Homo sapiens: one gene and its partners. The protein of the gene in region 6 purifies or fractionates together with the protein of the main gene of each other region. This does not show direct contact. Each region holds a gene or a part of one and is shown on either strand. Other genes may lie near its edges.

Region 1 (3,500 bases), on a different chromosome or scaffold from region 6:
TTAGAAAAAGCATATTAGACAAAAAATTAAGTTGACACCATCCTAAAAGGTAAAAATAAAAAAGTCTCAATGACTTTTAAAATATCAGACTATAAACTTCAGAATAAATTTGAAAAATTGTATTTACCTTTTCCCCCACCTCTTCATTTAATGTCAAACTGGATAATATTGAAAGTGCAAACACAACCACAGTTAAACTACTATGGGCCAACAAGGTGATAAGAGTTCGATAAAAAGATTTCACATTACTCTGAGGAAAAAAAAGTTAAAAAATAAATTAGAATTATAAATTTTATGTTTTGGTTTAAAAAGTATATCTTGCACAGAGTGGGCAAACTTTTATTAAACATCATTATCAACTCTATTAAATGATTGTTGCATTTAAAAGATAAATGTTCTACAGGAGAAATTTAGATCAGAGATAAATTTAAATTCAAAAATTGTTATAAAGAGAGTACCTACAGAAAAAAATAATTTGGTAAATGCGTGCAAACGAGTTGGAGATAAATATTTCCAAAGTTTTGTCACCTTAGAATAAATAATTCAATGATGGTAAATCAGGGTGTCAATTCTAATAAAGGGACACATGCAGAGTGGAAACAAAAGAGCTACCTTAAATACTGCAGGATTTGTGTTAACAAAAGAACTGTAGCATTTGTTAGCATTTGTGTTAACAAAAGAACTGTAATGAGGAACTCTCATAATTGTGGTGGAAGCAAAAAAAATTCAGCAAATTTAAGAATTTGTTTTACGTTACACACCGTGGAGCAGCAATTAACTTTGCCATATTTGCTGATTAGCATTTAGATTTAAGAGATCACTGCATGTGTGAGCAAGATGGGTAGTTTCGTATATTGCTGACAGTCATATAGATAGCCACAATCTTGGTGAAGAGCAGTTTCTACACATGAAACTATGAGCAAATGTTTATTCTTCCTTATATTTAAGTGTTTCCTAAATATGAACATATGAACTTTTTTTTCAATTCAGAAATTGAAACACACACACACACACACACACACACACACACACACAGTTACTCCACCTCCAAAGTAAGACCAGGGCAGAAAAATGTAGCACTTGAACAAGTGAGATATTAAATTTAAAATCGAACGGGTAATGCTGAATAGCACAGCAGGGAAATTGTTCACCAAGCACCTTAAAGAATCAGTGACTTGCTTGATTTAATATACTTTGTTTTTTTTTTTAAGGATGGAGTCTTACTCTGTTGCCAGGCTGGAGGGCAGTGGCGCGATCTCAGCTCACTCCAACCTCCACCTCCCGGGTTCAAGCAATTCCCCTGCCTCAGCTTCCCAAGTAGCTGGGACTACAGGCGTGTGCCACCACGCCTGGCTAATTTTTTGTATTTTGGTAGAGACAGGGTTCACCATGTTGGCCGAGATGGTCTCCATCTCCTGACCTTGTGATCTGCCTGCCTTGGCCTCCAAAGTGCTGGGATTACAGGTGTGAGCCACCATGCCCAGCTGATTTAATATACTTCTAAAAGTGATTCAGTTAAATTCATTTGTGTGTCTTCATTTATCACAAGTACTGTTGGTTCATACTGAGCACTTAACTCATGAATCTTTCTGGTGGGGTTGCCATTGATTTTGTGGAAACACAAGACTGAGATAAATGGGACTGCCAGTGATGTGCCTCCCTTCTAAGAGCACAAAATAATTTAGTAATTCTTGTACTACTCAATGTAATAAATAATGGGATGCCATGCTGAGGAAAACTTTTAGAAATAAGTGTTTGCATTAACCCTTAACACACAGTCTTCAATACAACATACACGAAGGCTGAAGTGCTTCAAGTTATTTGTATGTCAATCTGACTCTTAATTTTGATGGGTCATCCGATAAGACACAGAATCCTTGTTCAAATTTGTTTTAAAGAAAAAGATAAATACAATTTTCTTTAAGCAGAGAATCTACCATAAAACAAGAAACATTAAAAAGAAATAAACTTCTTACCAATGTCTTTATGTGCGTTTGAACAGAAAGATTGTGCCGACAAAGATTTGCCAATAATCCTAGACAAGGCATTTTTAACTCATCTTCAGAAGATTGACTGTTGTTTTACATTGGTGTTTTGTTTAAAGAAAAAATAGTAAAAGAAAAAAAGCATTAACATTATTCTAAGTCAAAATGATATAGTTAAGTTTATACATTTCAATTCCCTTTTACACGCAAAAAAAAAAACTAATTAACATAAGAAGCCAGGGAAGCTTTGAATAGTATTGATCATTTATCTCATTTTAAAACCAAATTACCCTATTCAATTCCATCATGAAAACATGGAAGTAACTGTCAGCGTGGACCATGTGCTGTTTCATCAGTATATTTTCCTACAAGAATAACTACACAATTTTCAATTTCAGTAATTTTTTTCTGGCCAAATCAATTCAGTCCATAAATTTTTCTTATGAAAATTAAAGTTGCTTTACAATTTTTTTTTCCTTTTTACATTTTTTCACCAATGAATGAGGTCACATACTTTTACAACTTTTGATCCTTAAAATCATCTGGGCAGAACAAATAAGAATCGGAGTCTCACTCAGTTTATATGTTAGAAAATGTTATCTAAGAAAAATTAATCTACCACATGGTTGTAATTTAAAAATAAACAAATAAACTATTTGGTTTTATGTTTGATTGCATACTCACATGTGATCTATCAGGAACGTAATTAATTCATCTATATTGGCACCAGAATAGAAAATTTTGACATTATATGTTAACTTCTGTAGAAGTTGAATGCACTGAGAATAAGAAAATAGTTATAAATATAAAGATATAAAAACATTGCCTGCTTAAAATAATGGACTCTCAGGCACATTCTGAGCATGTCCTTTTCCATTTCCTAAAACAATTTTTTTAAAAAACACATGTAAAGTAATGTAAGAACCTTAGGGCTCTTCTCTCAATTCACACATTTCTACGTATTCTGTCTCAGAGCATGGTTATCAACCTTGTTCACTTAGTCATCTTAAACTTGAATGCAGTTTGAAACACACATGTAGTCCATCAATTAGAAGATACCCTTCTTCACATTTTATCACCTCTAAAACTGCATGTCAATTTAATTTGTGATGTTTTTCTTTCTTACAATTGATGACATTTTAGAGTCAATGAAATATGAAGAGCTTTGAATCTATATTAAATAGACTCTATCTACAGCTTTAATTTTTGTAGAACGTTTCCTCCACAGATTGAGACTAGATGCCAACTCACGTTACAATTTTAATATAAATAGCTTATGTCTCAAAACACAGACATCTGTGTTTATAAGTCAAAGCAGTTATAATGTAGATTTGTTTTTCTTCAATAGTGGTGATAGAAATGGATAAGCTTCTCTTCTCTAGAAACATTTAAATTGTATGTGTGCAACCAGCTTTTAATGAGATGAACTGTGCCTAATCATGTAGTATTTATTATATAGCATATATACACTGTAAGTCAGCAGTTTATGACAGAAACTATCAATTTTGATCTGAC
Region 2 (3,500 bases), on a different chromosome or scaffold from region 6:
TATTCCAGAACAGCCCTATTTTATAAAACAAAGATGAAACAAGTGCCAATTGTGGTTTCAAAAATTTACACAGAAGTCTTGTAAACCTTATAAAAGCAAAAAATAATTCCAACATCAGTGTTTTTCCATAGGATTTTCTTTTTTATCTTAACCACAAAGTGATCTTTCAGGAAATCATATATAGTGTTATAAATCTTCCCAAAGCTTAATATTTCTTTATCTTTTTATTCTATGTTCAAATCAAATTAAATACTTTCATCAGCATGTAGATTATGACCCATTTCTCTGAAACTGTTCATCTATCCTTCTACGTGAACACATGGAAAGGCTAATGTTCACCTAACGTTAATGATGAGTAATGATGGCCATTTCTGAGTGATGAATGTTGGGTAGTTTTACTTCCTTCTTTGTATTCTTCTAAATTGTCCAAATTACTTACATGTATATGTCACTTACATAACAAGTCTTTTTAAATACTTATTTTTAATTAGCTATTGTCGTTTACCTCCTTTAGCTTTTGATTATTATCTTTTGAAAATTCATGATACTCTAAGGCTCTAATTTTTAACCTTCTGGGCTCTAATGACCAGTCCATAAAAAAACAAGATAAAAGAACGATGTACAACATCATGAAACAACGTAAGATCCCACAGACTTAAAAGTAAGTTTCATGTTTAAAACATAGTCCTGCTCCGCAGTCACCTGGGTTAGGAACATCTGTGCAACACATTACCTCCATGATTTGCCACGTAACAGAGCTCGAATTCACATATATAAATTCATGGTCTTAATCTATGGGCCCAGAGGCTAGGCTACCAGAAATCATAAAACGTTAGAGAGATCAGCTATTAAAATTGAGAAAAATAAGGGCAAAGTTACAGAGGCAAGGAATTGGTGGGTAAAAGGGAGAGGAGGAAAAAAAAGAGCTAGAAGATATTTGAGAGCTCAGTATCTACCTCTAAATTTCTGGGGAAAAAGAAAGTGAGTTTTGAAGTCACTGGAAATACTTCATGAGTGCTAGTGCTTCTGAATTTTTCAATAAATTACAGATATGTAAAATTAAAATAAAACTCTCATTCTACTCTCACCTATAAATAAATTTATAAAGGATAAAAAACCAACTCACCTGCCTGTCGTACTGGGAATTCCACATGGTCAGAGACTATAATCCGAAGTAAACTGGGGGCAAAATTGATAATCTTGTAGGACTGAAATTACAAAGAAATGTTTTATAAAATAGGGCAATATAAGTGAGTAGCTTATAAGTTAGCACCGGTTACTGAATACATTACTGTCCAAATAAAAGAAAAACTTTTAAACTGAGACAAACCCTTCAAGGCAAAATGAAGATTACTAAAATACTTCAAGTCAAAAAAATTTCCTGAGCAGAAACTGATGAATAAAAGAATGTGAACATTTTTATGATTTTTTTTAACATATTGTCAGAATGGTCTCCAGAAGTAGTATACCAATTTACACTCCCAACAGCAGCATATGGTAGTGTCCATCTATCTAATACAGGTATCATCATTCCTTTGAAACTTTAAAATTTTATTAATGTTTTAAATTGCATTTTCTCTATTACTAAGGAGGTTGGGTGTTTTCCTCTTTGTTGGCTGTTTTTTCTACAAATTCCTTACTCCCTTTATCCTTTTGTAAATGGAGTATTTGCTTTATTCTTAATAAATTCTAAGAGCTATTTATGAATTTAAAATCTCAATCTTTTATTTGACCTATACATGGCAAGTATTTCTTCCTAGATTATTTGTGCTTCAATTTTGTTTATGGTATTTTTGACAAACAGAAAACAAAAAAACAAAGGCTACAGGAAATAGGAGACCCAACAGAGCAAAACAGAGAAGATAATGTTACAAAGTTGAGCGTGAGCAATGGAGAGAAGCCAGTCCAGATTGGAACAGTGTGACTCACGAGATGGGGTTGAGCACACTGTCATCACCAGCTGCCCTCTACTGCTGTACTATCTTTTACACTTAATGCCTAAGTGAGCCTGTGGGGATGAAGCTCCTGCTCTGCCCTGTGGCCTGGGTCACTTCACCCCACAGGTGTGCTCTACTATGATCTGCTCCTGAGTTTGGCGATGGGGACCTTCAAAGCAAAAAAATACAGAGCATCCACTCCTTCTGATCACGTTATATCCAGATGTACAGTACCTGGACTATATTACAGTCCTGTCACATTCCAGAGTCCACATATGCCTTTGTCCACTGACATTCATTTGAAAAGACTCAAATTCCAGTGAGGCCAAACCAGACAATGACCCAGAGAGTCTGTTCAGCTCACCCCTCTCCTCAGAGCCTGGATCTGTGGGGGCATCCCTTTCAATACACAGCTAGGTTTGGGCATATTATTCATTTTTTTAAATTAAAATCACATCTATGAAGGTAAGTGTTTGATTAAAAAATTAATTTGGACACAACTGGCATTTTAAAAATATTAATCTTTTTCATCCAAGAACATTGTGCTTTCCCAATCTTTCTATATCCTTCACAAAATTTTGAATTATAATTTTCTTCCTTTCATCCTGTGTAGTCTTCAGATCACAAATCTGTGGCATGTAAATTCTTTTTTATCCATAATTGAAACCATCAGAATTTCAAAGCAGTTTTTAAGAAAACAGATTTGTTCTAACAACCGTTGATAGGAGGCAAAATTAACACAGATTCACCCAGCCTTCACCTTCTACATATGTATTATAACTCATGTTTATCTTTGTAAATACTGAAAGATCTTGTCATGAATCAAAGATTAAAACATCTATATAGTTTATTCTAATCATAAAAAAACTGACTTCCGTTATTTGTTTAAAAATCTTATTCCACACATACAAAATAACCTTTACACTTAAATAAATGCTACTTATTTGAAAGTAATATACCTATTGCAGAGACTTTTATGTCAACACTGTTGCCATTGTACAGATTTTGAAACTCCTCTTTTTGCAACTGTTTGCCATTTTAAAAAATTTCAGAAACCTTGTCTTCTTTCAGCATTGATTCATTCTATATTAACTTGGCCAGCTAAAACATTCAGAGATATAGTCAGATATATTTTCATACTACTTTACTCAGAAATAGTTACTCAATTTCTTTGTGCCTCTTCAGGCTTCGAGTTTCTAAAAAATAAATAAGACTAATTTCTCAATGATTTCCTGAGGATATTTTGTATCTGTGAAGTTTTCTGCAAATACGCAGTTTGCTTAACTAAATTCTGCATTTATGAGAACTCATAAAGCAAAAAACTGATGTCTCCTCCCATCCTCTGACTCACTGCTCCGCTGCATTAACCTTTCTAGTCCTCCAGCATGCCAAGTTGAGGGCCTTTTCTGAACCGATATTCCCTCTCAGTCCTCCAGCACGCCAAGTTGAGGGCCTTTTCTGAACTGTTGTTCCTCTCTCTGCTCTTTGCCTGGCCCATTCCTTCACAACATCCAACTCTCTACTCAATGCCATTCTTCAGAGAATGGCTATACATCCCAACAC
Region 3 (3,500 bases), on a different chromosome or scaffold from region 6:
TAATATTTGCAAAAACCGTCTGCAGTTGACTAAATGCTGTTAGAACACAGCTCAGTTTGGTGTTGCGGTGATACAGTTCATGGATAAGGCAAGCTGGCCCTGTTTAGGGATGAGGAAAGTTGGGCACAGCGAGATTATGCGATTCTCAAGCCATGGTGAGGAGAAGACCGAAGAATGTTCTCTTCCATCAGGTGGTGCTACTCCCCAAATGGTAGGGTAGAAGCAGCGTTCCTCTTCTGAAAAGAAAGAGAAGGAGGAAGAAGGAAATGAGGTTTGAGGGGGTGAAAGGAAAATATCTTAGGCCCCCAAAATCACTAAGGAAAACTCAACCCAGGAACTGCTTAGGGCAAACCTGCCTCCCATTCTATTCAAAGTCACTCCTCTGCTCTCTGAGATAGATGCATATCTGATTTGCCTCCGTTGGAAAGGCTAATCAGAAACTCAGAAGAATGCAACCACTTGTGTATCACCTGTCTGACTCACTTCCAGTCTTCTTGCTTTTGCTTCAAGTTGTCCCCCCTTTCCAGACCAAACCAATGTACTTCTTTTTTTTTTTTTTTTTTGAGACGGAGTCTCACTCTGTCACCCAGGCTGGAGTGCAATGGCATCATCTCAGCTCACTGCAACCTCCACCTCCCGAGTTCAAGCAATTCTTCCATCTCAGCCTCCCGAGTAGCTGGGATTACAGGCACCCACCATCATGCCGGGCTAAATTTTGTATTTTCGTAGAGACGGGGTTTCACCATGTTGGCCAGGCTGGTCTTGAACTCCTGACCTCAGGTGATCTGCCCGCCTTGGCTTCCCAAAGTGCTGGGATTACAGGCGTGGGCCACTGCACCTGGCCTGTACTTCTTACATATACTAACTGATGTCTCATGTCTCCCTGAATGTATAAAACCAAGCTGTGCCCTGACCACCTTGGGCAAATGTCATCAGGACTTCCTGAGGCTGTGTAAGGGGTGCGTCCTCAACCTTGACAAAATAAACTTTATAAATTAACTGAGACCTGTCTCAGATTTTCTGGGCTCACTGAAGTCCTATACTTGTGTCAGGCACTCAGTCGTGGGGAATAAGTAAGAGCTGGGAGCCACCGGGATTTAAACGAAGTATGGGCTGTTGCTGGACTCTTCTGGACACCAGTTTCCTTCTCTGTATAATGAAATTCACAATTCCCTACCAAATCACTAGGCTGTTATGAGACTGAAATAAGATCATCCCTATGAAATCACTTTAACAAATCTAAAATACCATGCCCCTGCAAGGTAATCTTATTGTATTGCATTTTAATTTTACTACCAGTATCATTCCAATTGTATAAAAATTTTGTATATACTAATATTCTCTGCCTTGTCACACAGACCCCCGGCGGCCATGCTCTAGCTCATAGGCACGAGCCCACTCCCGCAGGGAGTCAGGCGGGGTGGAGCTTCGGGGCCCCAAGTCCAGCACCCACCTGAGATCTTCACACCCTGAGCAGAGCAGTCGGGGCAACTTAACTGGGCACCAAGTGGGCAAAAATGGCGCCTTCCCCACCACATGTGCAGAAGGGTGAATTCCTGGATGTTGAGGGGTGGGGGCACAGAAACTCCCTGCCCGCTCTCCCCAGGAAGAGGGCAGGGCCCATGGGGACAAGGATTCCCACCTCTTCCCCACCACCATGGACATAAGGCCTTAGTGGACACCAAGGCCCCAGCACGACATCAGGCCCCAAACGACACTGGACTCTAGGTGGACACTGGACATCAGACACCAGGTTGATGCCAGGCCCTAGTCAAGTGGACTCCAGTCCCTGCATAAACATCAGGTCCCAGTTTGGCACATAGGCCCCAGGTGGACACCAGGCCCCTGGTGGATGCCCAGGTTAATACCAGGCCCCAGGTGGACACAAGGTCCCAGGTACATTCAGGTCCCGGGTGGAAACCAGGCCCCAGATGGACATCGGGCATCTGTATGTCAGGTCCCAGGTGGACACATAGGCCCCAAGTGGATGTCTAGTCCCCAGGTAAATACCAGGGCCAAGGTGAACAGGAGGCCCCAGGTGGACACCCTGACCCCAGAGGACCATCCAGCTCGAGGTGGACGTCAGGCCCCAAGTGGACACCAGTGTCCAGATGGACATCAGGCCCCAGGTAGACACTCGACTTGAGGTGTACACCAAGCACCAGGCTCACGCCCAGGCCCCCGATGGATACAATGAAACAACAGGTTCCATTCAGTGATATAATAAAGCACATCCCAAAGCTCCTTCACCCATATCTTCATGATAATTAACTGAGCTGGATAGTCACATGTTCATATATAGGCCTAATAACCTCAGAAATGTAATTGTTTAGATTCTACAAAACCTGTGTTTGGACTTGTTTAATGGAAACTCAGGTTCCATTCAGTGATTTAAAACAGCACATCACAAAGCTTCTTTGTACATAGCTTGGTTTTCGTTATTAGTACTGGACGTTCATATGTTGATATATAGGCCTGATAGCCCCTGAAATGTCATATCTGAGATTCTACAAAACATGTGTTTGGAACTTGCTTCATGGAAACACAGGTTCCATTCATTTATATAAAACAGCACATCAGAAAGTTTCTCCTCACATAGCTTGTTTTTCATTATTAGGGCTGAAAATCTATGTAGGTACAATAGTCTCTGAAATCTCATTTCCTTTTTTTTTTTTTTGAGACAGAGTTTCCCACTTGTTGCCCAGGCTGGAGGGCAGTGGCGTGATCTCGGCTCGCTGCAACCTCCGCCTCCCGGGTTCAAGTGATTCTCCTGCCTCAGCCTCCCAAGTAGTTGGGATTACAGGCATGCGCCACCATGCCCGGCTAATTTTGTATTTTTAGTAGAGCCGGGGTTTTTCCATGTTAGCCAGGCTGCTCTCGAACTCCCGACCTCAGGTGATCTGCCCGCTTTGGCCTCCCAAAGTTCTGGGATTATAGGCGTGAGCCACCATGCCCGGCCTGAAATCTCCTTTCTTAGATTCTCCAAAACATATGTTTGGAAATTGTATAATGGAGATTCCAGTTGCATTCAGTGATATAATAAAGCACATCAGAAAGCTTCTTCACACATAGCTTGTTTCTAGTTATTAGTAGTGGATATGTGTATATTCATATATAAACCCAATAACCTCTGAAATGTCATTTTTGTAGATTCTACAAAACATGTTTGAAACTTGTTTCATAAAAACACAGGTTCCATTCAGTGATATAAAACAGCACATCACAAAGCTGTTTTTAGTTATTAGGGATGGATACTCGTATATTCATATATAGGATAATATCCTCTGAAATGTCATTGCTTAGGTTCTAAAAAATGAGTGCTTGTAACTTGTTTAACAAAAACACTGGTTCTTCTCATTCATATGAAATAGTACATCCCAAAGCTCAAAGCTTCTTCACACATAGCTTGCTTTTAGTTATTAAGGCTCCGTATTTTTATATATAGGCCTAATAGTTTATATATAGGCCTAATAGCTTCTGAAATCTCATTAATTAGATTC
Region 4 (3,500 bases), on a different chromosome or scaffold from region 6:
AAATTGAGGGCTAGTCTGAAAGCAAAAGGTACTATGTATAACAGTGTTACAGGAAAATGAGTTATAATTCCCAATAATCGTACTACAAATTTTTAGAATATAATGTTTCATAAATGGGATACCAATTCAACACTCTAACTTTTCAAAATAAAAACAAATGTATGACTATATCAAATTTAAAAGACTGATACATACATATACATGCACAAACATACTTGTATCCCTAAAGGTCGCAATGCGTTGGTGAAGAAAAAATGCAAGATTGATTGCAGCTATATCAGATCTTATACAAATATGAACAAAAGAATTTTTGTTCTCATGCAGAAAAGAATGAAAGGATTCTGAGAAGAATGCTGTGACCAACCAGTTACCAAGCAAAGAGGGAGCCAGGCAGACCCCAGAGGCAATGACAGCAGTTAGGAATCTAATACAATGCTCTGGGTGAAAAGTAATTATGGGATATAAATAATCCCACAGATCAAAAAAAAACACCCAAATGAAATAAATTAAAATCCTCTTAAATAGACTGACCCAGACATTCAAATGAGATTTACTAACTGCCAAAGAAAATAAGAGTTGCTGTTTAAAATGCTATTAGCCCAAATTTTACCTGTGCATCTGACTGTGTCATCTGCTCAGCTAACTGTAAACAAGAATGGAAGGAGAAAAGAATGTCTTCACACAAGCTAGTAATTATATCTTTGTGTTTCAACTGGCTTTTTATTATGGACTGGTGCTTAAGGCTCTGCCTAAATGAATAAAAAGAAAAGAATACAATCACCACAAGTAACACATCAAGTAACTTAGGACCTCTAACAATATCTACCTTGTAGAACATTTAAAAAAACAATCAAAAAGCATCATATATCACATAATATAACTAAGATGTGCCCAGTTTACCTCTGAAGCAGTTATATTTGTTTAAATAAGTTGCTAATTTTTTCTCTGTGTAAAATATTAATTGAATTCTTACTATGTATGAGGCATTCTACCAGGCCCTGGAGACAAAGGGGTCAAACAAATGGACACAATCTCCGCCTTACCTGCATGAAACTTGTGGTCTAGCATGAGAGAGAATGTTAAATAATTTTAAGAATAATTAATTAGGGCTGTGATTTGTCAAATGACAGAGTCTAAGGTGCTACAATAGAGAGACCTAATCTAACTTATTCTTAGGGTAAGGATATCAATCTAACTTAATCTTAGGGTAAGGATATCAAAGAATGTTATCATGAAGATATAACTCTTAAGCTGAGAACTGAAAGACAGTAAGCAGGAGTTAGCAAGGTACACAAAATAGGAGAGAGAAGCATCCTAGGCAGATGGAAAAACCACGAAAAGACTCTGGGACAGGAGAGTTTGGTATGTTTGAGGAACTAAGAGTAGGGAGAGCAGCATGAGACAGGCTGGTGAAGGAGGCAGCATCCACAGAGGATTAGGTTGTTATTCTTAATCAAATGGGATAGACTTCAAGCAATAGAGTAACATGATCTGATTTACTTTTTAAAAGATCATTCTGCTGGGCAGAAAATGAACTGGAAGAGGGTAAGAGTGGAAGATAATCAGTGATGATGATAGTGATGTGGCTAATTCCTTGAGTATTAACTATGTGTCATGCACATTTCTAAGCATTTCACAGTGATGAACTCAATTCTCACTATAACCCTGTCAAGAAGTTGCTATTATTATTTCCATTTTCAGATGAGCAAACTAACGTTCAGAGAAATTAACCAAATAGCCCAAGGGCTCAGAAGGAGTAAATGATTTCAAGAATGGATTTAAGCACATGTGATACAGCTCCCAGGCAACACTCTTAACCACTGAATGGCAACTTAATGTCCTGGTAGTACAAGAAAAGTACCTAAGACCTGAAAATACACTGACCTTTAATGTTTTATGTATGTGTATAAAGTAGATATTCTTAACCATTTTTACATCTCAACCACATCTCCTCTCACCCCTAAGAATCTGATGAATGCTACAGGCACTATCCCTGGTGACCCTTTAAAATGCTTCAGTTTCAGAAAGTTAAAATTACTGTACAAATGGAATTAAGTGTGAACAACTTAAAAGTACCTAATGAAAAGATTATATTCAGTTTTAATTATAGTTATCAATTTATCTAATCCTAGAAATAGGATACTTGATAGCTGGTTAAACAACAGTAGCAGAAGAAAAGTGGTTAAGTTCTAGTCTGGCCCATGGCCCATTATTTCTGAAGTACTAGCTAACTAGGAAGAACATTTTTTTTAATTTTAGAGGCCACAGGGTAAAGAAGTCCAATTTGGCTTGAGAGCTACATGTAGAATATCTGGATTATCAGACAGCAGTGTCAGTGAACATTAAATTCACACAAAATGTTTTAAATGCAATCTAAAGAATCATGAATAATTAAGATTGGGGAATATGGAAAACATTTTCTAAAAAGTAAAAAATAACAAACAAACTTACTTAATTATAAACTTCCAAGTATTGGCATGAAATGCATGGTCCATACTGGAAATAACAGAGCAGATATCCAATAAAGAATGAATAACTGCAAAGAAAGATAACAGAACTTTTAAGACATCCAAATGTCATGGGGGTGAGTTTCTCCTATAATTAAAACTATCTACTGAACAATTTCAACATTTGATTGAATTAAAATACGTAACACAACTTGGAAACAGTTGTGTCAAAAGAATTATTTAAACTATTTAAGTGTCACACTTGTTAATGGTTTTTATAAATATTGAATATTAACTTCTGAAGTTTATACCTACCAGATGACCTAAATAAAACTAAAGATGTTCAGTGGAATAAAAGTTGTACCCTATTATAACTGAAATATTCTACAGATATAATTCTAATCCAAAATGACAAAACAAATTGCTAAGGAAAGAAAATCTAAAAAGGAAGAATTCAAATTAATATCCATGGTATTCATGCAAGGCTTTTACTCAGTCTGTGGTAGATTATTTATAAAAATGGCCACAATGACTGCCCTTTGTGAATCCACACTTTTCTACAATGACTCTGGGCTAAACGCTATGACCTGCTGTGGCCCGGGGGACAATAATAAAATTAAGGCAAGCAGAAACTTGAAAAGTGCTAGCACACAGCGACCTGCTCACACTTTTGCTACTCTTAGAAACCCTGAAACCACTGGCATCAGGTATCTGAGATAGGGTGAACCTGCTGGATGATGCACATGGCTTTCTCAAGTACTTCTGCCTCTGCCAACAGCCAGATGTGAATGAAGTCACTGAAGTCACATGGGTGAGCTAGTGCCCCAGGTGGATCAGAGAAAGTTGTCTCAGGACATCCCACCCTAAACTGCAGACTCACAGAATCATGAATAAATAAATAGTGAATAAATAGATTTTGAGGTGGTGTGTTGCAGAGCAACAGGTGCCTGATACACTGCACAAAACCAACTTACTCTCTTTATACCAAAGTTTTGAATGCAAACTTTGCCTTTATATTGTTTTTCAAACTCTTGTTCATAATCCATTAATGAG
Region 5 (4,120 bases), on a different chromosome or scaffold from region 6:
AACATTCTATCCTTTCTGCCACTACATGCTTGCCACTCTGCCCTGCATTTTTTTTAATTTTTATTTTTTTTTATAGACAGAGTCTGTATATCTTGCCCAGACTGGAATGCAGTAGCTATTCATAGGTGTGATGACAGCACACTACAGCCTGGAACTCCTGGGCTCAAGTGATCCTCCTGCCTTGGCTTACATCTTGCTTTTTCTTCTTTTTCTGAGACAAGATGTCACTCTGTCGCCCAGGCTGGAGTGCAATGGCGCAATCACTGCTCACTGCAGCCTCCTCCTCCTGGGCTCAAGTGATCTTCCCACCTCCACCTCCCGAACAGCCGGGACTACAGGGCGTACGCCACCACGCCTGGGCAATTTTTGTATTTTTTTGTAGAGACGAAGTCTCGCTATGTTGCCCAGGCTGTTCTCGAAATCCTGGGCTCAAGCGATCCTCCTGCCTCGGCCTCCCAAAGTGCTAGGATTAGAGGCGTGAGCCACTGCGCCTCGCCACACCCTGCATTTTTAACACCTCACTGGAGCGCTCATCCTCTCCACCTGCTCCGCTATTCAGGAGCGGCTCTGCACCGTAGGCCATTTCCCACGACCAGCTGCTGACAACCATATCATCAAACTGCTCTTGTTCTCGCACCCCTTAAATGTCCAGCCATAATTTCTCAGGGAAAAAAATTTATACATTTTCAACAAATAGGATTCATTCTCAAATAGTCACATACAACACTCACTCTGGAAGAAACTCCCTTTCACATGCCGGTGTCTCCCCTGCCCAGCCACTTCCCAGCTTTGAGGTTGGGCTCATCTAGGCTGGAAAACCAAGGGACTGGGCCGTGGTTTTCCCACTTCCACTTCCCAGTTTGCTTTAGTTTATTTTCCCCCCTCTTTGGATTCCTGAGGCTAAGATGAAGAGAGTCACTTGAGCCAACTTTTTTTCAGTGTTTGGGGGGAAAAGAATGTGGTTTAAAATAGGGGCTATTTGTGACCCAGACCTCTCTCCTTAAAGCCCTCTACATCTATTCCCATCCCGCCTCCTCTCTCCTAACACCTGAAAGATGCATGAATATAAAGTCATATATCATGAACTTTATTCCAAATGAGATTGCTAACTTACTGTGCAACTTTAGGAAAGCCCCTTAACCTGTCTGGGGCTCAGTTTTCACACAAATCCAGAGATCCTTGCAGAGAAAGGTGCAGTTCTCGTTCAGGCAGCAGGAGGCGCTGTCTCTGGAGGCTTAGATTCATTCCCCGCCCTCCGCCCGCTCCCGCCCGCCTCTGGTGCGCAGGCGCGGCTTCGCGGATTGGCCGCGCGCGGGGGCCGTCATTCGGTGGCGGGTCCCGGCCGCGGGGCTGGCGGGCTGAGGGGAGAAAAGATGGCGGCGGCGGCGGCAGCTGGTGCGGCCTCCGGGCTGCCGGGTCCAGTGGCACAAGGATTAAAGGAAGCGTTAGTGGATACGCTCACCGGGATCCTATCCCCAGTACAGGAGGTGCGGGCGGCTGCTGAAGAACAGATTAAGGTGCTGGAGGTGACGGAGGGTGAGTGAGGCGGGACCGTCACGAGGATGGCTCAGCCGCACAATCCGCTGACCGCAGCTCCGTACCGGCTGGGGACATGGGGAGCCTGAGCCAGTTGGAGATGTGGGCGCCGAGAAGTGGAGCAGGAAGCGAGAGATTGATGTCGCTGGTGGTTGTGAAAGTCCGAGAGAGGAGAGGCGCGCCTGAAGGATAGGGTCGGGGGAGGTGGAGCCTGGGAGTGGGGGAGGGAGGGTGGAGACTTGAAAAGATAGATGGAGCCTAGAATCTGCAGGGGACGGAGATGGAGCTAGACTTGGTGCTGTTGGAGGAAGTAGCGCGGTCGGGGAAATATTTTTTGAGTCCAGGACCAAAGTCTTTCGCTGTTCTCTTCACCAGCTGGATTGTACTGGGATAAGAGTAGGGGGAGCTATTAGTAGGAGTGGTGAAGGGTAGGGCCTCGAAAAGGCGGCTATCAAAGCTTAATAGATGTCATCAAACAAGTTTCTGCCTCTGAGTTATAAACCTAGCTAGTTGTTTGTACTCTTCGTGTTTTCCCAGAAATTAAATGCATATGCGATTGCTTCACTGTCCTGACCATACTTAACGTTTATTTTAAAAATAATTTGCCCTTATTAAATACCTTTGTGCATTTCTGTTTGGAGGAACTGATCATCCTTTGTTTTTGATTCTTTGTCTCCGTCCTCTATTGTGTGCTTTAAAGTGATGGAGAAGAAAATAAACCATTGGTTCGAGATTTTCTATCAATTTCCTGCCGCGTGAGCCTTTCACCGGGTCCAGTGTAGCTACCACAAAGAACAATTTAATCCAGAAACAGGAGGAGAAATCTTCTTGGTCTTTGTGTAAGAAATATATCTGGTCAGAGCTTCACTGGAACTCCAAATCCTCAGAATCTCCCAACTCAGGAATATTTCCACCACCACTTAAATACTTCATCAGAGATATGGGAAATTGTCCCATCACACACCCATCATATTCAAAACCTTCAGTTAGCTCTCCTACTGGACGTATTTCTATTGAAAAGAATTTAGAACAAATCTCTCTTAAATTTAGTTTACATTCTTTCACAGTATGAAAGAGCTGTTGAAAACAAATTTTCTTCTGTTGGAAATATGTTAAGATTTGGGATCTAACAGGCTAAGGACCATTTTGAAGGCCCACTTGTAATTGTCATTGTTTTATAAAATATCAGATCTATACAGGAGAAACCACTGGTTAGGAGAAAGCTGTTTGAGAACCATGTATAAACTAATCTAAAGGAATTTTTAGCGGCTTCTAAATAAAATTCGTTTATGCACATTAATGTCTGTCCCCCTTGAGTATGAGGAAGGAAGAGTGACAAAGCAAAGGAACCTCATCACATTCAAGTTGTCACCTGAATAAAACTTGAGAGTCTGGTGCAAATTCATCTTAACTAAACCTTCCCTGAGTGGTACCCAGTGCTCCTGGTGCTCCAAATGCATGTCTGGCACCTTTGTATGAAAGGTGGACCTTGACTTGTATTTAAACTGTCTTACAACAACTCCACTTTTGCTCTGATCTTTTCAACTTTAGCCAAATGCCATGGTCTCATCTGGGCAAAGTCAATTATAAAGTTCTCGAGGTCTTTTTTGAAACTCTGATTCCTCACTTTATTCATCTTTTTTTTCTTGAGACTGGGTCTCGCTCTATCGTGTAGACTTTGGAGCAGTGATGCCATCATGGCTCACTGCAGCCTCAAACTTTTGGACTCAAGCGATCCTCCCACCTAGGCCTCCCAAAGTGCTGGGATTACAGGCCTCAGCCACCACACCTGGCATCTTTTTGAGCCTTTAAGTGAAAAATTAAATTTCAGAAGTACAGAATTTTGATCTAAGTCACTGATGAGAAATAGATCGACTGCCCCCCGACCCCCATAACTTACTGGTAATGTGCTGTTGGGCAGACTATGAGAATGAAAAGTATGGAAAGGCATCGATGCAGTGACCTGATATTGGTGATCTAGTAATAGAGCATATGACTCAGGTTTTGGATTTGGTTAGAGGGTTGGATCAGTCTCTGGAGTTTAGTGCAATGCTTCGGACCCTTTGGAGGCTGCTTGTGTCTTTTAAGTAGTCTGGCTCCTTAATGTCTATCAAAAAAACTATAGAGATTTACCCCCTTCTGTACCTGTTTTAAGGTGGAGAATGGCGGTCCATTCCCTCAGATGCGGTCTGCTTTCTTCCTCTTGTGGCCTTTAACAAGTTATCTTTGACATTGGGTTCAGAGTACCTCCCACCTTAAACTCTGTCTGAATCTCTCAGATGTTTTCTGAACATGGTGCAATATAGTAGCTGCTTCTTTACCAGCCTCAACCCTTCTTTACATGAAAACATAGAACCCAGCTTTCCAGCCGGGATTTAGCCAACTATCTGGCCTGATGAAACTGGCAGGACATGGTTCCTCCTATTAGAATGCCCTACAGAGCAAGATGAGCCATTCTTGCAAACTACTTTCCACTTCTTTGGTGTTGCTTCACATTTTAGTGTTTTTTGCTTTTGTTGTTGTTGTTGTTGTTGTTGTTGTTGTTTTGAGACAGAGTCTCAGTCTGTCGCCCAGGCTGGAGTGC
Region 6 (3,500 bases):
ATACACCCATCCCTTATGGCCCGTTACCACTCTCTTGAGCTTCTGACAGGTCAAGACGAGGTTTGCCCAGTGGTCGGGAAGATGCTAAGGTTACCAGTATGGGGGATCAGGGTCAGGGAAGGCGGGTCTCATCAGGCTCCGCTCCCTTCTGCACTTCAGGGGAAGGTGAGTTTCCCTCTGCCAGCTGCCATGCAAATGAACTAATGAATATTTATGAAGTCTGTTCACTGAGGTTGAAGAGACTCTGAGGGGTTTTGGGGGCAATAGTTCTCTCTTCTCCCCCCTCCTCCATCATGTAGACATCTGTTTCCTCAATGCCTCTGGCTTCAAGGTAGAACCCCAATTAGCTAGAAGCCCTGTTCCAATTCCAGGGCTCTGGAACCTGGGTGGCAATGGGAGACTGCACTTGGGGTAGACAGGACTCCCTGGTGAGTAAGCCAGAACCGAGTGGTTAGAAAGCTGAGCTGGCCTGTCTCCCTTTCCGTGCCCTCTATGTAGCTGCATATATATGTGTTGTTAAGATGCAACAGTACAAGGATTCAGGTAATGTTTTAGGGCCTCTTAGACCCATCGGGTTATTGTCCTGGGTAGGTTTAGACCCCTCTTTTCAATGGGAACATTCATCTGATCATTCATTCCCTCACATGAAGGGCCTGGACTCTAAGGTTCCTGCTGGCTCTAAGATGTGAGCAGTTGTCTAATCCTGCCATCTGGATGGAACCGTTGTGAGCACTGGAAAGGGAAAAAATGCCTGGAGAATTCTAGAGGCTTTGGGGAAACTTGTTGGCTTTGTATGGTGCATGGGACAGGGGTATTCCATCTGAAATGTTTATCCAGGCTTCCATCCCATGCCTACTTCCTTTCTGGGCCCTCTATAGTTAGGTACCAGTGGGGAGGCCATCTCATTCTGGCTTTTACCCTCCTGCACATCAAGATGGCAGCTCCCAATTTGGTGGAGCCTCACTCGACATGGAGGAAAGGCTGCTTTTCTTCGTCCACTTCATCCATGTGGTCAGTTTCCCTCTTCGCCTACTTGGGTATCATTTCCCTCCCTCAGATGAGGACACAGGTTTGGCATTGCAAAGGCATTTGCCCAGAGTTCCCAGTAGGCCGGTATTGCTTGTAGTACCTTTGGTGTAATGGGCCCTCAGGAAATGGAACCACTCTTTTCTCAGATGATTGTGGTAGCCTGTGAACTGGTGCATGACACTGTCAGCTTCATTCTCTTTAAGCACTGCCTGAAGCCTTCCATTGTCCTTCCTGCTCTGAGAGCCTGTCTCCAATGGGATGAAACCCACCCTGCTTGCTGTGACCCTTGAAGCCTTTCAGTCTGGCCCCAGGTGAACTTTTCACCTCTTCTTCTGTTTCTCTCTTCTCACTCCCAGCCAAGCTGGACCAATCACTGGCCTGGGCTTTGTGTTGTAGCCACTGCTGTCTACTGTCTCAGTGTGTTGACTTCTTATTCCTCACCTAAGACCCACTTTCATCCTGCCTTTCCTGTGGATACATCTCTGACCATCCTGGTCAGATGAGCTATCTCTTTCTTCTCCCTGCCTCCAGCCCTTGCTGCTTGAATCATCATCCTCACACATACCTACAGATAGCCTGGTGTTGTCTATCACTCGAGTATGGGTTATTTACTTTTCTGACCCAAACTGGACAGTAAAGTCCTTGACGATGGAGCCATATCTTCTCTTCCTGTTTCCCCTCCAAAATATGAGAGTGAGCTCATAGGTACTTAGTGTTAGTATCTGACCTCCTGCCTCTTGGGAGACTGCTTCTAAGAGGCAGTCAAACATGTTGAACGCCTATTGTGTGCTAGGTGTTCTCCATGTGCTGCCTTGTCTCCCCACCACAATATTGGAAGGTAGGGGCTCTTGCCACCCCCACTTTACAAGAGAAGAAACTGAAGCTCAGAACAGGCAGCTCATCCAAGGTCACAGAGTTAGTAAGGGCCTAGCTTTGGAATCTGATTCTAAAGTCTGTGTTCTTTCTCCTACATGGTTCTGCCTTGCTCTCAGCACCAGCCCATCCAGTCTCAGAAATGGCCAATGGAGCACCATTTTCTTTCTGTGTGCTTAGGCAAGGACAGAGTCCTATGGATAGGTGGTCCTGGGCTGCTGACCCTCCCTGCTGTCCCCCAGTGCCTGGCCTTCTGGATTAGAATATGAACCTGGCTCAAAAGGCATTTGTCCATCTCCTCTCAGGAGCTGGAGTAGGAGCAACATAGAGGTGACAGGTTAGGATACAGATGAGGCCCTATCTTCTATGATCTGTTGTCTCTGGTTGAGCCCCTTCTCTTCTCCTCTGTTCTTTTTAAGAATGAGATGAATCAAGTTTAGGAATTCAGGCTCTTGCATTTTGAGGGTGGGATGAATTGCCAGTAGGACAATAGGCAGTGGGAGTGAGCAGAGCTGCACCTGGCCAGAGACTGTGGCCATCATCCCTTTGCTCCAGGCGATGCCTGTTCCTATCTTTCCATCATGACCAAGATTAGTAAGGATGGGGGAGAAGACATGGGTCCCAGACAGATTGAGCTCCCCCAGCCTTTGGCTGGGAGCTGCGGGGAGTGGTGACTAAGACATGTGTGGGCTTGCTGTGTGTGTGTGTATGTGTGTGTGTGTGTGTGTGTGTGTGTGTGTGTGTGTGTGTGCGCGCGCGCGCGCGCACGTGTGTATGGGTATAGGAGAGGTAGTAGCAGCGGTCATGAAGGAATCTTTGTTGGGGGTGGGGGTATATAAGACTGCCACCTCCAGGTAGCATGGGCCTGACACCTTGGTACCCAGCCCATTGGCCACGTCAGCCCCCTGCGGAAATGCCACATTAGGACAAAGGGCTCCCCCAGCCAGGCAGTGCTCCACCCTGCCGAGCAGTCAGAGCCTGGCAGCCTTGCCCATGGGCCACCCCTTCCACACTCTCCTGGTAGTGTGGTTCTCTCTCCCCACCCCCAGCCTGAGGATGGAGGAAGGGCAGAAGGCTTGCTCTTGCCATCTCCACCCAGTAGGCCCAGCCCGGCTCTTGTCCGCTTCCCTGGTTCTGGAATGGCCTGGGGCCACCCCCAACCCTGAGGCTGACCATCTTCTTCCTTCTGGGCAGGTTCCTGAGTGGGAAGGGCTTGGTGATCTATCCGAAAATTGGAGACAAGCTGGACATCATCTGCCCCCGAGCAGAAGCAGGGCGGCCCTATGAGTACTACAAGCTGTACCTGGTGCGGCCTGAGCAGGCAGCTGCCTGTAGCACAGTTCTCGACCCCAACGTGTTGGTCACCTGCAATAGGCCAGAGCAGGAAATACGCTTTACCATCAAGTTCCAGGAGTTCAGCCCCAACTACATGGGCCTGGAGTTCAAGAAGCACCATGATTACTACATTACCTGTGAGTCCCGCCCATCCCATCCTCTGGCTCTCTCCCTGGGCTTAACTCTTTCCTCTCCTGTAGTAGTGGGAGCTTCTAAGTGGTGCAATGCTATTGCATGTAGTTAAGACCCTGCTGGATCTGATC
Region 7 (3,500 bases), on a different chromosome or scaffold from region 6:
TGGTCTCGAACTCCTGACCTCAGATGATCTACCTGCCTCAGCCTCCCAAAGTGCTGGGATTATAGGCGTGAGCTACTACGCCCGGCCTTATGTTACATATATTTTAACTAAAAAAAGCTTTCATGAAGCTTTTCTAAATTAAATAATGGAGAGAGAGATTGTAATAAATTGAGGTCAAATGTGCTCAATTAAAATGAAAACAAATGACAGGCCGGCCACAGTGGCTCATGCCTGTAATCCTAGCACTTTGGGAAGTGGAAAGATTGCTTCAGGCTAGGAGTTCAAGACTGCAGTAAGCTATGATCACTGTACTACACTACAGCCTGGGCAACAGAGTGAATGTGTCTCTATTTTAAAATATATATAATATTTATATATAAATACACGTATTTTATACATACATACTTTATATGTAAATATATAAATAATATTTTAAAAATATTTGTGTATATATATTATGTGTGTGTATATATATGCATAAATAAAACATACATATACACATAAATAAAGCAAAAACCAGACAAACCCCAATTCCAATTCAAGCCAATTTTGTATAAATATAAATTACACTTTTTTTTTTTTTTTTTTTACTGAGACAGGGTCTCACCATCGCCCAGGCTGGAATGCAGTAGTGTGATCATAACTTACTGCAACCTCAAATTCCTGGGCTCACGTGATACTCCTGCCTCAGCTTCCTGGGCAGCTGGAACTACAGGCAAGCACCACCACGCCCAGCTAATTTTTCTAATTTTTTGTAGAGACAGGGTTTCACTATGTTGCCCAGGCTGGTCTTGAACTCAAGGCCTCAAGTGATCCTCCCACCCTGGCCTCTCAAATTGCTAGGATTACAGGTATAAGGCATCACACCTGACCAAATTACATTGTCTTCATTTATGTAGATCAATCTAAAAAAGATTTGACTGAAACTGGACTGCCCATTGCTATGACTTACGGGAAATGGGCAACAACTCAATACCATGATGAAGTCCTGAAGTGAAGCAGGATTAGAAGGAACCATAATCAACACTGCTGTGGTGTCCTAGGTCAGCAAGACACCTCCAAGTCTTGAGCAGGGAACTGGGGAGAACTGATGCTCTTACCTTGTTAATAATTCCTCCGTTTTCAACAACTCCTTCAGCACCAACTATGACAAGATCTGCTTTCTCCATGATGTAGCTAAGGGGAAAAAAAGCTTTTCATGCTTTATTTTCTTGGCTCTAACGAGTAGCATCATCATCTGCAAAGATCAATATTCCATTTCTATCAAGGTAAGTTCCTCCCATAACTACCTGTTTTTTTTAAAGCGCACTTAACACGCGATAGACCCCTGGCATTGTTACCAGGGGTGTTTTCTGGTCATGACCCTACAATGAGACATACACTTCACACTGCCGCCCGGCGCATGCACACGTACATATGTGTGTAAGTGAAGCAAGAATGTCCTGACACAGCAGTCTTCCTTCCAAGTGTGGTATCCTCTACTTTCTTTTCTACTTCAGCACAAACCAAACAAAATTTTAAAATCTGATGAGATCTGAAGTTGGACAAAAGTGTTATGCAGTTTTAAAAATCTTTCTTTTTTTTTTTGAGACCAGATCTCACTCTGTTGCCCAGGCTAGAGTGCAGTGGCATGATCTCAGCCCAAACCTCTACCTCTTAGGCTCAAGCGATCCTCCCATTTCAGCCTCCCAGGTAGCTGGGACCACAGCATATGCCACCATGCCCTAGAGATGGGGTTTCGCCATATTGCCCAGGCTGGTCTCCAACTCCTGAACTCTAGCGATCCACCTGCCTCAGGTATGAGCCACTGTGCCCAACCTTAAGAATCTTTCTGGTAGGATGAAGGCCAATTTAGTCTTTAAAATGAGCAATTAGTAGAATTCCTCAAAATCCTTACTTTTGAACACATTCCTAATTTCCTTAATCATCTATCTTGTTTTCATTCCAAGAGATCACTACTCTTGTTTTTTCTTGGGAAATACACTGACAATCCCAGGAACATGTGACTTGGCTTTGCGACACAAGCTGCATCTTCTAGGTGAGACAAAGCATCCCAGTATGCCACTGAGGACAGCCAGGTCTTCACAGAAATACAGAGCCCTGATTACCCTCTGCTGATCCCAACTGACCTTTGTACTTTGCTCTTAAAATGCATTTGCACTGGCTGGGCGTGGTGGCTCACGCCTGTAATCCCAGCACTTTGGGAGGCCAAGGCGGGCAGATCACCTGAGTTCAGGAGTTCGAGACCAGCCTGGCCAACATGGTGAAACCCCATCTCTACTAAAAATATAAAAGAATTAACGTGGCATGGTGGCATGCGCCGGTAATCCCAGCTACTTAGGAGGCTGAGGCAGGAGAATCGCTTGAACCTGGGAGGTGGAGATTGCAGTGAACCAAGATCATGCCATTGCACTCCAGCCTGGGCAACAGGGCAAGACTCCATCTCAAAAAAACAAAAAACAAACAAACAAAAACAACAACAACAACAAACTCAACACTTACAGCCATAAAGCTATAGACACAACTCCCACTCTCCCCAACATCCTACAGCTCTGTCTTCTTTGTATGCTATCACAACCTCATAACAAGCTTGCTGGTTTAGGGCAGCTATTAATTAAGAAGTAGGACGCTACCTGGTGTGGCTTTATGAACGGGACTCAAACTTTCAATCTGAAAACTTGCTGTAAGCCAGCATGGGGTGGGGGAGGTGATTATGGCTGGGGAAGATGGGCACTCACCCGACAGCAGCATCTAGCACCACAGTGACAGGGACGTTGAGGTGGCAGAGGGCTTTGGCCATTTTCTTACTGAAGATGACATTTTGAGAACGTTAGAGAAAGTACAAGACAGTACCACAGTGATGTATGTCACCTAATGTGGACAGTGGATGTTTGCTTGAAACTCACATTAATACTAATGGGTTAAGGGGCAGATCCCAATACTTTGGACTAAGGAAACAAGAATTTGAGTTCTTTAGAAAGAAGTATTTTTGGAAAACTATACTCTTAGACTCTGGGTAAGAGATGTAAATTCAGGAAAAAAGGAGGAAGTTTTGCTTTGATTATCGTCTAGAGAGAGGGAGATATAAGTTACCTATTCCTTGATAAAAATCTTCATCAATACAATCTCTGCTCTTCCACGGAGTTAACTACTTAAGTGAAACCCCTAGATCATATACTGCGGCCTGCTGCAAATTCAGTGATTTTTCTTCCAAAGGCAGGAAAAGGTACAATGAAAGGCAGTGCTGACTGCTGGCAAGCTGGGGGCACATTCTGGTTCTGATCCTGTTGGACTGTAATCCGCAGTTTGCTCTGTAAAATTATGGCTGGGCACATAACTGAACAGAAAGGTACTTGCCCTGACAAATCAGGCTGTGACTCTGTGACGTATACACTAAATCGCTTCTTGGCCGCCACGGCTGCTTCCAGGACTCTCAGGACCACTCTGGAGTAGGCGTGAGTCAATATTGTCTGTGGACCGAGAAAGCTTTGTCAAAGGGG

The links.
Region 1: the proteins of EFNB1 (region 6) and CIP2A purify together in Homo sapiens (co-immunoprecipitation; 2 studies listed by BioGRID and IntAct, with this or other methods). This does not show direct contact.
Region 2: the proteins of EFNB1 (region 6) and IPO8 purify together in Homo sapiens (co-immunoprecipitation; 2 studies listed by BioGRID and IntAct, with this or other methods). This does not show direct contact.
Region 3: the proteins of EFNB1 (region 6) and SACS purify together in Homo sapiens (affinity purification with mass spectrometry; one large-scale study listed by BioGRID and IntAct). This does not show direct contact.
Region 4: the proteins of EFNB1 (region 6) and FIRRM purify together in Homo sapiens (affinity purification with mass spectrometry; one large-scale study listed by BioGRID and IntAct). This does not show direct contact.
Region 5: the proteins of EFNB1 (region 6) and IPO9 purify together in Homo sapiens (affinity purification with mass spectrometry; one large-scale study listed by BioGRID and IntAct). This does not show direct contact.
Region 7: the proteins of EFNB1 (region 6) and EIF2B1 purify together in Homo sapiens (co-immunoprecipitation; 2 studies listed by BioGRID and IntAct, with this or other methods). This does not show direct contact.

The regions. Positions count from the first base shown.
Region 1 is NC_000003.12:108,579,439-108,582,938, forward strand, and holds part of CIP2A (protein CIP2A), read right to left. Parts: intron 2,765-3,500; coding exon 2,670-2,764; intron 2,074-2,669; coding exon 1,977-2,073; intron 251-1,976; coding exon 128-250; intron 1-127.
Region 2 is NC_000012.12:30,689,370-30,692,869, forward strand, and holds part of IPO8 (importin-8), read right to left. Parts: intron 1,209-3,500; coding exon 1,127-1,208; intron 1-1,126. UniProt on the Homo sapiens protein: Involved in nuclear protein import, either by acting as autonomous nuclear transport receptor or as an adapter-like protein in association with the importin-beta subunit KPNB1.
Region 3 is NC_000013.11:23,423,703-23,427,202, reverse strand, and holds part of SACS (sacsin), read left to right. Parts: exon of another isoform or gene 1-236; intron 237-3,500. UniProt on the Homo sapiens protein: Co-chaperone which acts as a regulator of the Hsp70 chaperone machinery and may be involved in the processing of other ataxia-linked proteins.
Region 4 is NC_000001.11:169,805,040-169,808,539, reverse strand, and holds part of FIRRM (FIGNL1-interacting regulator of recombination and mitosis), read right to left. Parts: intron 2,537-3,500; coding exon 2,452-2,536; intron 750-2,451; coding exon 611-749; intron 1-610. UniProt on the Homo sapiens protein: Regulates PLK1 kinase activity at kinetochores and promotes faithful chromosome segregation in prometaphase by bridging kinase and phosphatase activities.
Region 5 is NC_000001.11:201,827,837-201,831,956, forward strand, and holds the start of IPO9 (importin-9), read left to right. Parts: upstream 1-1,320; 5' UTR 1,321-1,373; coding exon 1,374-1,536; exon of another isoform or gene 1,537-1,723; intron 1,724-4,120. UniProt on the Homo sapiens protein: Nuclear transport receptor that mediates nuclear import of proteins, such as histones, proteasome and actin. Serves as receptor for nuclear localization signals (NLS) in cargo substrates.
Region 6 is NC_000023.11:68,835,521-68,839,020, forward strand, and holds part of EFNB1 (ephrin-B1 precursor), read left to right. Parts: intron 1-3,096; coding exon 3,097-3,374; intron 3,375-3,500. UniProt on the Homo sapiens protein: Cell surface transmembrane ligand for Eph receptors, a family of receptor tyrosine kinases which are crucial for migration, repulsion and adhesion during neuronal, vascular and epithelial development.
Region 7 is NC_000012.12:123,623,687-123,627,186, forward strand, and holds part of EIF2B1 (translation initiation factor eIF2B subunit alpha), read right to left. Parts: intron 3,471-3,500; coding exon 3,358-3,470; intron 2,808-3,357; coding exon 2,739-2,807; intron 1,177-2,738; coding exon 1,101-1,176; intron 1-1,100.